Homo sapiens: one gene and its partners. The protein of the gene in region 3 interacts with the protein of the main gene of each other region in a pairwise test. Each region holds a gene or a part of one and is shown on either strand. Other genes may lie near its edges.

Region 1 (3,434 bases), on a different chromosome or scaffold from region 3:
AGGTTATGAAGACGTGATCCCAAATTTAGTGACTCTGTAGTGTCTTTTGTTGAGCAATGAGTTAAATACCTGTCGATAAAAAGTGTTAATTATGTTATTACTGATTCATGATAGAAAATCACCTTCTGTCGCTAGTTTATATGACTTTACATTTACCACTCCTGCCAAGAGAAAGGAAGCTTTGTGATTGTGCCCCGTCATAGTTAATTGTACAAATCAATTAAAAATGGTATGTAAGCATCTGGCTCACACAGCAGCTCTGAATTCTGAATGAAAAGATAACCCATGCTAATGTATATGTTGCATGAACAAGTAGATGGGTGTTGGAAAGAAAACACTGATAGTCACTCTGGGTGAAGGGGGAGGCCTGGCCAATGATTTGTATCTGAGAAACATTTTGAGATTATTTATATGTCTTCTGACTGCCCTTTGCTTTGTAGCTACAGCAACTTGCAGAACCTGGCATTATTGCAGAGATGAAGGTATAGTTGTATAAAGAATATTGGATTAAAGTTGATGAGGCCTGTGTTCTGATATCAAATCTTCCACTAATGAGCTCTAAAATGAATATCAAGTCACAATTTTTTCAAGCCTTCATTGTTGCATCTATCAGATGGGAATAGTAATACTCATTTTACCTATTTTTACCAGGTGGTTGTAGGAACAGGATTCATTCATTCCTTCATTAATATAATGAACACTTTGAGACCCCACTATATAACAGGGCCATACATATGACAAGGTGATAGATGGAAAGACGTTTTGCAGAATTTTTGAAGACTTGCAATGTTTTTGAAGACTACAGGATAGTTTGTGATTTTTATATTAAGGTCGTATCAACTCTTTATGTCAATATATCAAAGTAATTGACACTTTTAGAGCTCTGCCAATCAGTGGGCCATATTCATAGAATGTCAGTAATCTGTCTGAATACAAGTTATAGTTGGTCTTTAGCTGTTCTGTCTCTGAGGAGCTAGAAATAAAATATTAGGTTCTAATTTTTTTTTGTTCAAACACTGATCATGTAACAAACTGCAAATCCATGTTTTCAGCAGGTTCGCCAACCTTTGAGTTGAATGCAGACCTTTCTTTAGAACAACCTAACTTTGAGTACAGGCAAAGTATTAAATGGAATAGCTTTTCCTCCCCTACAAAGTGGATTTGAATACAGTCCTTAGAAAAATTCTTCCCCTGCCAAAAAAGGTCCTTCAATCTCCTTTATTATTTTTCTTTTGAAGAATCAAACTTGTCCATCTCTCCCCTCCCAAGTGACTTTCCTCACTCATGTAATCATTTTCTTCATAAATGCCCTTTTACTATCCCACAGAAAAAGTAAAGATTTAAAAAATCATTTTTAAGGTACATCCAAGATTTCATAGCAATATTTTATTTGTGTTCACAGTGCAAGATAAATCTGACTTTCTCAATATTTTTGGTCTTCATATGGCATCTGAAACAGTTGTTCACATTCACACATTTATGTTTCACCATATGCATACTGTGTACAGCTCTGTTGTTCTAAAATATTTTATTGGTTTTCCTTTATATCTCAACTTTTGATGGGTGTCCTTGAAGAACTTTCATGAAAAAAATGTAAATGTGAATGATTCATTCATTTTGAACATATGTAACTATTTTAGGAGATTTTCAGGAGATTTTACCCTACATGGAGTACACTGTTCTTAGCAGGGAATGTGCTTTATATTACTATTCTACTCACAGCTGGATGCTGCAGATGTATTAACATTGTAAACATGTACTTTTTCTATTCTATGCTTACTTTAATACATTATTTATATGTGCTAGACTGTGCTGAGTTTTGGTGGTTGTCAAAGGCAGTCAGTAATTTTATAAATTTCACTTTTGTGGATAGTTAAGTATAACATGGTTTAGTATAAAATCTGGTCTTCCTCTAGATTTCTAAGTCACTAGAAGAATTTCTTGGCAAATTGATTGTTCAAGGCCAGTTTTGTTAGTTGTAAGGTGGAAGCCACCCCAATCCTCTCCCAGTGTTTCATAGGCATTTTCAGACCTGGATGCTATTATAGTTCCTCCTCTAGTTTTCCAGTAGAGAATTCGTATGTGGTCCAGAGGTTCAAGAGAGAGAGAGAAAAAATTTCTCCTCAAAAGAATTGAACCCTTACTTTAGAAACTTCTGACAATCTTCAGAACATTCCATGTGGGTGTCCTTGTGTTTCTCATAGTATGACTTATTGATTCATGGTGTCTCTTATTAAAGAAGCATGAATGTATCACTAGCTGTTACCAGAACAAACAGCTGTAGAATGTAATGACCCATCCTATTTCTAAATTTACTTCTATCAGTGGATAATTTGTGTATAGGAAAAGGTGTGGAAATTTTTTAATTGTTAAAAACTGGAATACCTTTCTACCTTTTGTAGTCTTTAAGATTTCATAATGATGGTTTTAATGTATTACTATCTTACTATTATGTATTGTGTTTAAACAAGACCAATCAGTGAAATATTGAATGTCAATACTTTTTGTTAGAAATGCCCTCTGAAAATGTTAGAAAATGTAAAACTTTACCTGTGACAAGGAATAAATTCATGATTAGAAGAATTATACTGTTTTTCTTGTGCAAATAATACTTAAGGCAGATGTTCAGTCTCACAGTGATGTTGGAAAGCATATTTTATGCAGTCTAAACACTATTTCTGTATTAGATATTTAAATGCATGAGGATAAATTCTAATTGCTTTTTGTTTAAAACAGAAACATAGAAGAAGCATTAGCCCCAGTTTGTATAAAATGTCTGCTGCAACTGAATTCATGATAGTTCATGAAAACTGAAAATCATTCCAATTTTGTAAAACTGCTGCTACTGGTTTTATCAATAAAGTTTTAGCAGATGGCTTATATGTACATGTGTGAAAATTTTTTATGTTAAAAAAAGATACAGTTTTGCAGCATCAACATGCAAATTTTATGGGCCTGAATGATACTGCTTATTTTAGTATATACAAAAACCATTAACTTCAAAACCATACCAACTGCAGACATATATTTTAGAACTATAAGCATTACATGTATGATCCATACAGTTTATTTGGTTTCAGGGTGCTGTAGGCTTTTATGGTGAACACATATACAAATCAACATATACCAGTTCAAATGCTGACTTGAAGAACATCAGGTAAGGAGCTATATAAATGTAAGGATCACCTGAATTAATTAAATTGCATCTAAAGGGGATTCTGAGAAGGCAAACTGCAAAGTGTAGGTGTTCATGTACAAAAGTGTATGTAATTCCTCATTAGAGAAGCTCTTGTCCAGAACACTTTCCCCTCTATGAATACCCAGTTCTCAAAAGTTAACAAGGCTCAGATGCAACAAGCTAGAAGTAGAGGGAGCTGAGTTATTATATTCGGACACCTACATAGCACTCAAAACATGGCTGACTTCCCCCAAAC
Region 2 (5,620 bases), on a different chromosome or scaffold from region 3:
GCAAAGTGCCATTTTAGTTTGTCAGCCCCTTGGCTATGGGGAAGCCAGCTTAAGGCTCCCACTACAACTGTCACCCAAAGTGAGCTTGCCAAAGAAGTACCCTGCTGTGCTGTCACCCAGAGCCCCCACTTGCTACTCAGAATCCACAAACATTAACATTGGCATATTTTAATAAACTACAAGTTTTCATGTAAAGTTGAAGACCCTTTGTTTATTTTAATCCTTGCCCAATCCCATTTCCTTCACTTCTTCCCCAGAGGCAACCACTATGATGAATTCCAGACCACGTTTTACACTTTACCGTGCCCATGCACCCACAGCCACCAGGGCCCAAGAGTGACCACCCCACCCCATCCCACCCCACATACCCTGGTAGTTTACAAAGGGAAGACTAATGTGTTTTCCAGGGGCCCATAAAATACCATTCCACTCCACCCCTGCAAATCCTGAGCTGCATGCAGATGGGGCAGGGGTGGGTGGAGAGACTGCTGGATACCTACTTTAAACCTGCATGGGGATTTGCCCTGATTCCTAAAAGGTGAGAGTTGCAGGTGTATCAAATGGACACCTTTATTGCTTTGAGAACCAGATAACTTTTTTGCTAACAATGGTAAAACTGAAAGATAAAACTGAAGAGAACGTTCTGAAAGGGCAACATGCACGCCCCGCCTAGTGGCCTGACCCAGGGAAGGGACCCCGTGGCTGTGGGGCCCATCTGGGCTCAAGTCTCTTTGACGCGGCCGCCCAGGGTGAGCTTGTCGAACAGGTACTCAGCCAGGCCGGCTTCCGGGGAACAAATCTTGCGCAGGTTGCTCACGTAGCCACCCAGCTCTTTGATGGTCTTGACTTGCTCGTGCAGGTAGTGGCTCTCCAGGAAGTGGCACAGCTGGGGGTCGCCCTTCTCCACGGCCAGCTGGTACAGATCCAGCAGGCTCTGGTTGACGTTCTTCTCCAGGTGGAAGGCGGACTCCATGGCCACGAGCCCGCTCTCCCAGCCTTGGCACTCTGGCTTCCTGATATCGTGAAGGCAGATGTGGCCACCGCGCAGGTTCTGCAGCCTCATCAGCTTCTGGGCATGCTCCATTTTGTCGTCCGACAGGCGCAGGAAGTAGCGGAAGAAGTTCTCCAGGGCCACGTCGTCCCGGTTGAAGTAGAAGGCCATAGACAGGTACAGGTAGGAGGTGTAGAGCTCCAGCGTGATGTGGCTGTTGATGGCGGCGTCGCAGTTGGTGTCGTACTTCTGGCGCACCTGCGACGGCTGGGCGGTGGCCATGGCGGGCAGCGCAAGTGCAGGCGAGCACACGGGCGAAGTCGGTGCGGTAGCGAGGGCAGCAGCTGAGGTGACAAGAATGGCGGATAGTGAAAGGCGGGTGTGCGATGAAACCGGAAGTGGGCAGTGGAAGTGGGCAGTGGCGACCGTTAGGGAGGAGCGCGCTCTGTCGGTGGGGGGAGGGGCGGCGGGGGACAGAGTTGCGGGGCAAGGGGGTGGGGGCACAAGCGCTGACTTCCGTCGGAAATCCCGGCCACTTGGCGCTGAATGTTTCAAGACCATCTTTTAAAAATAACTGCTCTAGGCCGGGCACGGTAGCTCACGCGTGTAATCCCAGCACTTTGGGAGGCCGGGGCGGGCGGATCACGAGGTCAGGACATGGAGACCAACCTGACCAACATGGTGAAACCCCGTCTCTACTAAAAATACAAAAAAAATTAGCCAGGCATGCTGGCGCGCGCACCTGTAGTCCCAGCTACTCGGGAGGCTGAGGCAGGAGAATTGCTTGAACCCAAGAGGCGGAGGTTGCAGTGAGCTGGGATTGTGCCGTTACACGCCAGCCTGGGCAACAGAGCAAGACTTGTGTCAAACAACAACAACAAACTGCACTATTGAGATACAATTCCTCTGCCATAAAATTCACCCTCTGAAACATTTCCATGGTTTTTAGTATATTCATGAAGTTGTGTAACTATCACCCCATCACCAAAAATCTAATTTCAGAACGTTTTCCTTATTCCAAAATGAAATCCCCTACCCATGAGTAGTTACTGCCCATCTCGCCTTCCTCACTGGCCCGACAACCACAAATGAAATCTCTGTTTCTAGAGATTTGCTTACTCTGGACATTTCAAATAAATCATACTATATGCGGCCTTTATATGGCCTCTTTCATTTAGCATAATGTCTTTAACTTTTGTCTTTTTTATGGCTGAATTATATTTCATTGTATGGATATACCACATTTTATTTACTCATTCATCAGTCGATGGGCATTTGAGTTGTTTCCATTTTGTGACTATTATGACTAATGCAGCTATGAGGATTTTTATAATAGACATATGTTTTCAACTCCCTTGGGTATATACCTGGGACTAGAATTGCTGGGTCATATGTTAAGACTCTGTTTAACATTTTGAGGAACTGCTAGACTGTTTTCCAAAGTCCCCTCATCATTTTACATGCCCACTAACAATGTATGAAGGTTCCAACACTGTCATTGTCTTTGTTGTTTTTCTAGTGGATGTAAAGTGGTATCTCACTGTGGTTTTGATTTGCATTTCCATAATGGCTATTGATGTTGAGCATCTTTTCATAGTCATTTGTATCTTCTTTGGAGAAAACTCTATTCAAGTCTTTTGTCCATTTTAAAATTGGGTTATTTGTACTTTTATTGCTGAGTTTTAAGAGTTCTATATATATTATGTGTGCCAGTCCTTTTTCAGATATATGATTTGCAAATATTTTCTCTCATTCTGTTTTTTTTTTCACTTTCTTAATGGTGTCCTTTGAAGCACAAAGTTCTTAATTATGTTCAATTTTTCTGTTTTTCTCTTGTCACTTGTGCTTTTAGTGTCCTATCTAAGAAACCATTGCCTAATTCAAGGTCATAAACATTTATGTCCAGGTTTTCTTTGAATAATTTTACAGTTTTAGCTTTTACATTTAAGTTTCTAACTCATTTTGAGTTAATTTTTGTATATGATATGAGGTCATTGTCCAATTTCATTCCTTTGTGTGTGGATATCCAGTTGTCCTAGCACCATTTGTTGAGAAGACCATTCTTTCTCCACTAGATGGTCTTGGCACACTTGTCAAAAATCAATTGACCATAGATGTATGGGTTTATTTCGGGACTCCCAATTCTGTTCTGTCAATCTATGTGTCTAAACTGATGCTGGCACAACACTGGCTTGATTACTATAGCTTTGTAGTAAGTTTTGAAATTGGGAAGTATAGTCATCCAACTCTGCTCTTCTGCAGAGATTGCTTTGGCTATTCTGGGTCCCTTGAATTTCCTATGAATTTTAGGATATGCTTGTCAATTTCGTTTTTTTTTTTTTTTTTTTTTTTAAAAACCAGCCTACTGGGATTTTGTTAGGGATTGCATTAAACCTGTAAGTCATTTGTGGGAATATTGGTATCTTAATATTAACTCTTCTAGTCCATAAACATGGGATGTCTTTTAATTTATTTGGGTCCAGGACGTTTAAAAATAAAGATTTTGATTTAGGCTGGGGCTCCAAATCAGAATTTCTAAGCATCTCAGGTGATGCCAGACCACATTCTGAGTAGCAATGCTCTAAGAGGGAGGAGGCCTCTATCCCTTATCAAGGTTTAGAGATAAAGAGGACACATATATTGGACTCCACAAGCAAAAATTCCTGTTCTCACATCACAGACAATGCTTGTGCTATTTATTATACTAGATGTAGTTTTTTGTGGGAAAGGGAAGAGACCTTTCTCCTATCACAAAAAATTGTGAAAGACTTTAAAATCAGCAAAAACAATTTCCTGGATGTGGTTTTTAGAGTACCTTTCTGGGTTATCTCCATCTTTCATTGACTTAGAGTTATTTTCTAACTCTTCAGATTGTAGAAAACTAATAATAATGCAAACAATTCTTGTCCACAGAAATGCAAATAAATGTCTGGTGAAATGCAATTGATTTTTGACTTATTTTGCATCTATTTGTACATTCCTTATTTCAATATTCCTTATTCCTACATATGTATGGCTCTTTGAATTCTCCTTTGAGCCATTTGTAACATCTTACTAGTTTCCTCATTAATTAATAAGTTAAATAAAATGTTTCATGCACATATTTTATATTTATATGAGAGTCATGATTTTACTTTTTTCCTCGTAATTATTCTTTAGCACTCCCCAGGTCCACCCCCACCCGACCAGGAACACAACTGAAGCCCAGGGAAGTTGACTTGGTAAAGTGAGCACTTTTATGGGTTGCTCACCTGAGATATGATTCCAGAAAATTACTTAGGACCTAAAGGCATAGAATTCCTGACTGTGGAATTCTATATGGACTATGGAAAGATAGCCTCTCTGAGGAGAAGGAGGCAGGGAGTAGTCCAGGGCTGTAGGAGACCAACGAAAACTAGCAGAGGAAGTGGATATCCAGGGAGCAGGCCACAGAGGTACCTCACCAGCAGAACACTGTAGCCACAGTGGGGCTGAGGCTGGCCTGATGCAAACTGGGGAGGATAGAGAAGTAGGGGTGACCAGTAAAGGTCTGTAGAAAACTGGAACCAGCTGAGAACCAGGGAAGTGATGAGAGTTTCCAGGCAGAGAATGTAGTTAACAGAGATTTGAGGGGTGGAAGGTTGACTGACTCAGATGGGAGTTTGACAGGCTGAGGTTCATGGTCTGAGTAAAGTTAACCCTGGGAAAGAGGTAGGAACCTGAGCTTTTGGAGCCAGGATGAAGGATCCTCTCATCAGCACTTTTGTGCTCCCTGAATCATACCCCTGGAAGGGGTGTTCGGATCCACAGATACTAAGAGTGTGGAGTATCCAGGACTGGGCCATGGGCTTCATCTTCCAGAGAAGTTTCCTTCCAGCTGGTGATCAGATGTAGGGACGCTCTAATGCATTCTTCTTGGCCCTACTATGGGACAACTTTTTAGCACAAAGGCCGTAGGACAATGGTTGCTCCTATTTGGTTGGACACTACTGAGACGTCCAACACTCACACCCATACCATATTCTAAAGAAGAAAATGCTCTTTCCAGTCTCTAATTCCTTGCTGTTCTGATTTTGGGGGAAAAAAGAAGAATCACTGTCTTGAGGAGCAAAGGAAAACCCTCAGAACTTAGACATGCCCATTGTATGTAAGTTGATGGCTGATATTCGTCAGTTAAATAGGAATTGTTTCTAAGGTTATAACTTTTCATTTCTATTCAGTGTGCTGAATAATCTCCATCTACCTCTCTAAGACTACTCTCTGCTTTTCTCCATCTTACTTGGCACACTGGGAGGGGGAGGTTGACCTGTATGTACTGCACCCCTAGGTCCCTTGTGCTGTCTGGCTTCTAGTTGCATTCAGTCAACGGGAGGCACTGGCAGGATATGGGAGGGCAGGGGAGGAGTGAAGTTGAGGTATTTTTTCTCTTGGCTCCATCTCTTCAGGGCAGATAATTAAGAGGCGCCTTTATTTCCCTTTTATACATTTTGCTCCCTGGATGCAGTAGGACCATTCTCAGGATAGGCCTTCTGCAAACATTACTACAAAGAGCAGGTATTCTTTGGCTCAAGTTTAATGCACAGCCTAAGAAATTCATGGGGTCCCAGAAACCAGTGTGTAGCTGGACGTTCCGTCAGGCCAGAGGATCAA
Region 3 (7,813 bases):
AACAAAATTAAACAATGGGGAAAGAATAACCTATTCAGTAAGTGGTGCTGGGAAACTGGCTAGCCATATGCGGAAGAACGAAACCAGACCCTATTTCTCACCATATACAAAAATTAACTCAAGATGGATTAAAGACTTAAATGTAAGACCTCGAGCTATAAAAATCCTAGAAAACCTAGGAAGTACTCTTCTAGACATTGGTCTAGGCAAAGAATTCATGGCTAAGTCCTCAAAATCAAACGCCACAGAAACAAAAATTGACAGTTGGGACCTAACTAAACTAAAAAGCTTCTGCACAGCAAAAGCAACTATCAACAGAGTAAACAGACAACCTACTTAAGGGGAGAAAATATTTGCAAACTATGCATCTGACAAACACCTAATATCCAGAATCTATAAGGAACTGAAACAAATCAACAAGAAAAAAAAACAAATAATTCCATTAAAAAGTGGGCAAAAGCATGAACAGACACTTCTAAAAGAAAACATACAAGCCACCAACCAACATATGAAAAAATTATCAAAATCACTAATTATCAGAGAGATGCAAATCAAAATCACAATGAGATACCATCTCACACCAATCAGAATGGCTATTACCAAAAAATCAAACAATAACAGATGTTAGCAAGGTTGTAGAGAAAAGAGAACGCCTATACACTGTTGCTGGGAATGCAAATTAGTTCAGCCCCTGTGGAAGGCAGTTTGGAAATTTCTCAAAGAACTAAAATTAGAAATACTATTCAACCCAGCAATCTCATTACTGGGTACACACTCAAAGGAAAATAAATCATTCTATCAAAAAGACACCTGCACTTGTATGTTTTTTGGGGTTTTGTATTATTTTGTTTTTTTTAAGAGAGTCTTGCTCTGATACACAGGCTGGAATGTAGTGGCATGATCATAGCTCACTGCAGCCTCAAACTCTTGGGCTCAAGCCATCCTCCCTCAGCTTCTCATATAGCTGGGATTACAGGCACGGGCCACCACGCCCAGCTGACTTGAGGGGTTTGTTTATTTTTTTCAGAGAGAGGGTCTCACTTTTCTGCCCAGGCTGGTTTTGAACTCTTGGCTTCAAGCAATCCTCCTGCCTCAGCCTCCCAAAGTGCTAGGATTACAGGTGTGAGCCATCTCACTCAGCCTGTACTTGTGTGTTTATCACAGCACTATTCACAATAGCAAACATACAGAATCAACCCAGCTGCCCATCAATGGTGGGTTAGATTCCTAAAATGTGGTACATATACACCCTGGAATACTATTAATACACAGCCATAAACAAGAAGGAAATCATGTCCTTTGCAGCAACATGGATGCAGGTGGAGGCCATTATTCTAAGCAAGTTAATGCAGAAACAGAAAACCAAATACAGCATATTTATAAGTGGGAGCTAAACATTGGGTACACATGGACACAAAAATGGGAACAATAAACACTGGGAATTCTAAAGGGGGTTAGGGAGAGAGGGCAGCAGGTATTGAAAAACTATCTATCGGATGCCATGTTCACTTATGTTCACTACTTGAGTGATGAAATCATTAGCAGCCCAAACCTCAGCATCACACAGTATACTCATGTAACAAGCCTGCACATGTACCCACTGAATCTAAAATAAAATAAATTTTTTACAGTTATAAATAAATAAAAAGAGTTCAGGAGTTGTTTGCAATTCTCCCCCACTCAACTTTACCCAAGACTGACCAGTAGATAGTCAAGCACTGTATTCAAGAGTTCCTTGGATTTGTTCTTTCTTTTGTTTTTTCCCTTTCTGCGTGGTTATAGTATTTATCTGAAATACCACTGAGGTCACTTGTTTCCATTTGCTTTTGGTTTCAGGCTTTTCTTTTCCTTCTCAACTTGTTATAATTTTATTTTCAAACATGTGGAACATTAGCATGCTCCCAAAAGTCAAAACTATATCATAAAAACTTCTCAGAGAAGTGTCACTCCTTCCAGAATCATTTCCATTCCCCACCCCCAGTAAACAACCAACTTTATTGTTTTCTGGTTTATCCTTCCTGAACTTCGTTTGGTAACAATAAGCAGATAGATGTACATTTTGTTTCCCCTCTTTTCTTTTTTACACAAAAGATAGTATACTATATATCCTCTTATGTACTTAGCATTCCATATCAGTTCATAGAAATCTCCCTTGTTTGCTTTGTTTTTTATAGCTGCATAGTACCTCATTGTGTGTATGAACCATAATTAATTCCACCAATTCTTATTTAGGTAGTTTCCATATTTTACAATTACAAATATGTTGTAATGAATAGCTTCATGCCTATTGTTGGAGGTGTATCTTCAGGGTAAATTTCTAGAAGTAGGATTTCTGGGTGATGGGATGCACATGCAGTTGTGTTAGATATTGCCAAATTCACCAAAGGGGTACACCATTTGGGATTCCCACTAGCAATGAGTGAGAGCGTCTGTTCCCCACAGCATCATCAACAGATTGCACTGTCAAACTTTATAATTTTGTCAGTCTGGTGGATGAGAAGTGATATTTCATTCTAGTTTTAAATTGCATTATGTTTACTATATGTGAAGTTGAACATTTTTTCATATATTTAGGGTCATTCATATGTCTCTCTCTCTCTCTCTCTCTTTTTTTTTTTTTTTTCTTTTTTTGAGGCAGTCTTGCGCTGTCACCCAGCATCGCCCAGGCTGGAGTTCAGTGGCAGGATCATGGCTCACTGCAGCCTCAACTTCCCGGGCTCAAGCAATCCTCCCACCTCGGTCTCCCAAGTAGCTGGGACTACAAGCGCTCACAACCTCGCCCAGCTAATTTTTGTACTTTTCGTAGCAATAAGGTTTCACTGTGTTGCCCAGGCTGGTCTTGAACTCCTGGGCTCAAGTTATCCTCCTGCCTCGGCCTCCTGACGTGCTGGGATTAAGCATCCGGCCATAATCTCATTTTTAAAATTCAGATCTCTAGTCCATCTAGAGTTTATTCTTGTATATGATTTTTAAATAAATATAATTTATATTTTTCTAAATGGCTATCTAGTTTATCCCAACAACATTTCTTAAAAAAATCATCTGTGCCCCAGTGATTACAGATATCACCTTTGTCCTATACTGGAAGTCTATACATAGCTGTGTTTATCTCTAGACTTTCTGTTCTCTTCCATTGGCCTGTTTGTCTAGTCATGCACCAGTACCACATTGTTTTTTTTTGGTTTTTTTGTTTTTTTTAATATACTTTAAGTTCTAGCGTACATGTGCACAACGTGCGGGTTTGTTACATATGTATACATGTGCCATGTTGTTTTAATCATAGAGGCTTTGTAGTATGCTTTATATCAATTAGGGCTAGCACCACCTCAGAGCTCTTCCTTTTCAGGGTTTTCCTAGCTAGTCTTGTGTATTTTTTTCCCATATAAACTTTAATATCAACTTGTGTTGGTCTTTTAAAATACTCATGGTTATTTGTATTAAATTTATAAATTAACTTATAACGGACATCTTGATCAATTTAAGATGTGCCAAAAATAAGGCATGTTGTTCCATTGGGGAAGTTATTGGCACTTCGAGATCCGATGTTCTCTCTTAGATACTTCCTTAGGTAGTTTAGGTCATTAAATAAAATAATAAATATTTCTTGAGCAGCTACTATGCCCTTGGCACTATATTAAGCACGATAGAAGTAAAAAACCAGATTCTGTCCTCAAGCAGCTTAGAATTTCACGAGAGAAACAGACTAACACACCAAAAGCAAAGCAGGCATGCTGTATGAGCAAAGAGGAAATGGGGAGTAAGGAGGGCTAGAGCCACAAGGTAGTGAGACTGGAATCATGTGCCCTGAGGTTGTGTAAGATTTAGGCAGGGCAGCAAGGAGAAGGAAGGGATCCCAGTGAGGGGAACCCTGGCAAAAGCTCAGAGGAGGACTGAGTGTGACAGGTTTCACAGGGCAGAGGGCCCCATCCAGACTGTTAGCTGGAATCCTGGATGAGGCCCTCTTCCAGTCTCCGAGAGTTATGCCTCCATATTAACAGTCCCCAAACACTAATTATGTATTCATTAAAATGATGTTAGTGAATGTTTGCTGGGTTTCCAGATACTAGCCCTTTAGAATGGTAATTTCTGTACATTGTTACCTTTTCAGGGAATGGCCTTGAGTTGTGCCATCCAATACAGTAGCTACTTGCCATGTGTGGCTGTGGAGCCCTTATGATATGGATAGTGCAACTGAGCAACTGAATTTCTAATTTTATGTAATTTGAATTCACTAAATTTTAATTTTAAAATGAAAGTAGTATAAAATATTTTTCATTAAACCCAACTTTATTGTGTGGGGAGGGCTACATTTTAAACATAGTATTGTATAACATATGATTGCTGTATCACAGTATGTGTGTCCAATTTACTTTTTTTAATGTGGCTACCAGAAAATTTTAAATGACATATGCTGCCCACATTGCATTTTGCTTTGACAGCACTGGTCTAGAGTCTCACAACTCAGTGTGGTCTGGCTGGACTCACGTGAGAGCCATCCCAGACTCTGCACTTGACTAAGTCAGGATCTGCACTTGACTAAGTTCCCCAGGTGAATCTTATGCACAATAAGATAAGCACTGATCTGGACGACCTCAGAAGACATCCAGCCACTGGTAGGTACCCAGCATGACCCCCCCCAATCCTTATGGGAGGAGGCTGAGGGAGCAACAGGGAGACCCCTGACTGCCGTTGTGACATCACAGAATAAACCCCACGGGTCACCCAACCCCGCCCTGGCTGGTGTCTGGCCCTCAGGACATCCTCTCCAATCCACCACACACCACCTTACCCCTCTGCTGGCAAGAGGGGACCTGATTCATCCTCACGCTAAACACTCATTCTACCCAACTGATTGAGACAGAACAGAAGATAAACTGAAACTTCTCTGCCTTCCCGCTGCAAGAGTGAATGAGCGATCCCTCTCAACTGACTCAAAATGTTTGCCTCACCCAGGAGGTAGGTACAGTGATTTTGAAATCTCATGAACATCTCATACACATATCTTTACTGCTGGATTTGTAACACAGGTTACACTAACTCATCAATTTCATGTATTTCACATGGTCACAGTAAAGAGCTTGGAAATGCACTATAGGGTTCTACAAAATGGAATGAAAATGTGTCACTCAGCCCAGTTTTCATAGATAAAACTGGTATGTCCATACCTTGGCCTATTACCTTTTCATCTTCCTTCATTAAAACTTCCATTTCTTCTTCCCTTGTCTCATCATCTTCCTTCTCCTTTCTGTTCCCAGGGCTCCCTATGCCTCTCCTTTTTTCCTTTCATCTGCATTATTCCCGTTGCCAAAATCTGGAGCCTGGTAAAGGCCCAGTAGCGGTGGCAACAATAGAGCTGTGTGTCACCCCAGTGAGCTGAAAGAGCAGACATCAAGCTCTATGCCAGAGAACAGTGGGGCATCCCCAAGGTCCTGCTGGAAGGCAGCTCTGATCTGGAACTGGGAAGGACAACACACAGTCAAGCTCTTTCTCGTCTCAGAGAATCCAGCAGAATCTTCAGGGATCCTTCCAGACCAGGAAGACTCTCACACTCTGCAGAGAAGTTGCGGCTTGTTTAGCATTTGACCTACATTCAGAAACGACCAGCCTCCCAACTTTCAGCTCTAAGGATTACTTAAAAAAACAAATGGTGTTCATTCTCAGATATCTTGCCTTTCTCAGGAGAGAAAAATGAAGCTTGCAATTAGCCAGCAAACTAGCACATACACAAACACACACACACGTACATACACTCCAACACAGGGAGCAATGTGGTATGTTGTTGACCAGCTGGAAGTTAGGATCTCAAAGGAAAGAACAGGATAACTTAAGAGGCACTTCTGGGACTGCAGAGCTGAGCTGGTGGTTCTGAAGAGCCATCGGAGTGTGGGTTCAGGCAGCTTCCCTAATTCAGAAGCAGCCCCAAGTGAATAGATGACAAAGAAGTGGATGTGAACATGACAGAAAAAGCCAGTCATGGCTTAGAATAAATTTTATTATTGTTCTTTATCAGTGGTTTTCCAGGAGAGACACAGAGGGAATATGGGAGCGTCTGGTTGCTAATATGTACCTGAGAAGTATAAAGTACACTTAATCCATTGCCTCAATCTGCAGGAGGTCCCATAAATCTGGCCTGCAATCTGTACATTTTGTTAAAGGTGACTGTGCCTTGGCTTTTACTGAGTGGCAGCCTGGTGATGAGTCAGGCGAACAGTCCTCAAAGATTGCCAGTGTTGACTTTACCATTTACTAGCTTTGTGGCCTTGAGCAAGTCAAACCCTCCGAATCGGAACCCTCACTTGTAGAATGGGGATGCCACGTCCCTTTCAGGCTGGTTGTGAGGATTAAGGAAGATGTCTGAAGGGTCTAGCAAGGTGTCTGCTGGTAGCACAGGTGCACTTCCCCTTCGTTTCTGCTTAGAGGCACTCTTCTTCTACCTGTTTTCGATTTTCACAGAACTAAGAAGGACAACTCTTTGCCCTCATTTACCCCTGAGGGTAAATTTAACCCTCTGGGAGGTTAAGTAACTTGGCCAAAATCCTCAGTGCAGTCGTGCATTGGGTCGTAAATAGAACTCGGATCTGCTGAGGGGTCTGGGTGGTGAAGTCCCGCCCTGGGGTCTTCCCAATGAGACGCAGACATCCCCTTCCCTTAGAACGGGAGCCTGGGACCCATAGCTTTACCGGGCAGAGGCAGGGAAATGCCTGACTTTGGACTCCAGCAGCTCGACACATCCCGAGCCCTGGCCCACCGGCCTGGGTGTAAGGAATCCCTCCGACTACCCAGTCTCTCCGCCCTCCCGCGCAGCCTCGCCAGGCGGCAGAGGGGACGCGCCTCAGGTGGCCTAGCGCCCCGGCCCAGCTCCGGGACACATGTGGCCCCGCCCTCCGCGGCTCGCCGGGTCCCTGGCCTGCCCTGGCAGTCCCTGCTCTCTGGGAGGGCCCCCGGGACACCGTTCTCAACCGACGGAGGAAGACCCAGAGGAAGAAACAGCCCGGGTACCCCCGCCCGACCCGGTCAGGAAGCCATGGGTGGTTGGCGGCCGCGGGGCGGGGCCTCGCAAACAATGCCAAACACGGCCGGCCTGTCGCCGCGGCAACGCGCCCCGCTGCTAGGCGACCGGGCGCCGTAGTAAACGGGAGAGACGGCGCGTTACTCATCAGGGTGGGAGGGCGCGCTCGGAAGTGGAGATGGCGCGGCCCAGGCACCCCCGAGAGGCCCCACCCGTTACGCCCCCGCCCCGCCCCGCGGTCCCCAAGCGCCCCCGGCCCCAGCCGGCCTGCTGGCGCCGTCACCCGCGCGTGAGCGATTGCCCCACAGGATGTGCAGATGTGGCTGCCCCTCTGATTCACTCCAGCTGCTTGGGGCCTGGAAGAAAGGCGGCTTCCTCTCCTGGAAATGACTGCATTAGCAAAAGTCCTCAAACAATTCCATTAAAAGGCGGAAAGGGAAAGACGAGAACGAGGCCCCGATACGCTTTTCCAGGGTCCTTCCCACTGAATTGAAGTGTTCCCAAAACTCGGGACCTACGTTAGGAAGACTAGAGTCATTTGATTGTGCGACCATTTGAGGTGATGTGGCCCCTTAAACGTGGTTACAGCTGAGAATAAATCCCGGAGCTAAGTGCCCTACAGTGATGTAGTCATTTTGAACACTAAGCACGGGCATTTTGGTGGCATTACTCTTCCCTTCCGGGCTGGGAAACAAATGTGAAAATGTCCCGTGTGAAGACCATCTTTGTCCTCATCAGTGAAAGAGTATAAGGTCAGGCACTGATGTAAACATTGCAGTTAGAGCAGCAAAAGCTCAGAAGTTT

The links. The genes of interacting proteins can lie anywhere in the genome.
Region 1: the proteins of GSG1 (region 3) and SYT16 interact in binary tests that used the Homo sapiens proteins (3 or more experiments, as listed by UniProt).
Region 2: the proteins of GSG1 (region 3) and FTHL17 interact in binary tests that used the Homo sapiens proteins (3 or more experiments, as listed by UniProt).

The regions. Positions count from the first base shown.
Region 1 is NC_000014.9:62,109,669-62,113,102, forward strand, and holds the end of SYT16 (synaptotagmin-16), read left to right. Parts: 3' UTR 1-2,882; downstream 2,883-3,434. UniProt on the Homo sapiens protein: May be involved in the trafficking and exocytosis of secretory vesicles in non-neuronal tissues. Is Ca(2+)-independent.
Region 2 is NC_000023.11:31,070,681-31,076,300, forward strand, and holds FTHL17 (ferritin heavy polypeptide-like 17), read right to left. Parts: upstream 1,362-5,620; 5' UTR 1,274-1,361; coding exon 722-1,273; 3' UTR 553-721; downstream 1-552.
Region 3 is NC_000012.12:13,100,608-13,108,420, reverse strand, and holds the start of GSG1 (germ cell-specific gene 1 protein), read left to right. Parts: upstream 1-4,753; 5' UTR 4,754-4,908; coding exon 4,909-4,956; intron 4,957-5,070; exon of another isoform or gene 5,071-5,153; intron 5,154-5,255; coding exon of another isoform or gene 5,256-5,336; exon of another isoform or gene 5,337-6,434; intron 6,435-6,680; exon of another isoform or gene 6,681-6,991; intron 6,992-7,813. UniProt on the Homo sapiens protein: May cause the redistribution of PAPOLB from the cytosol to the endoplasmic reticulum.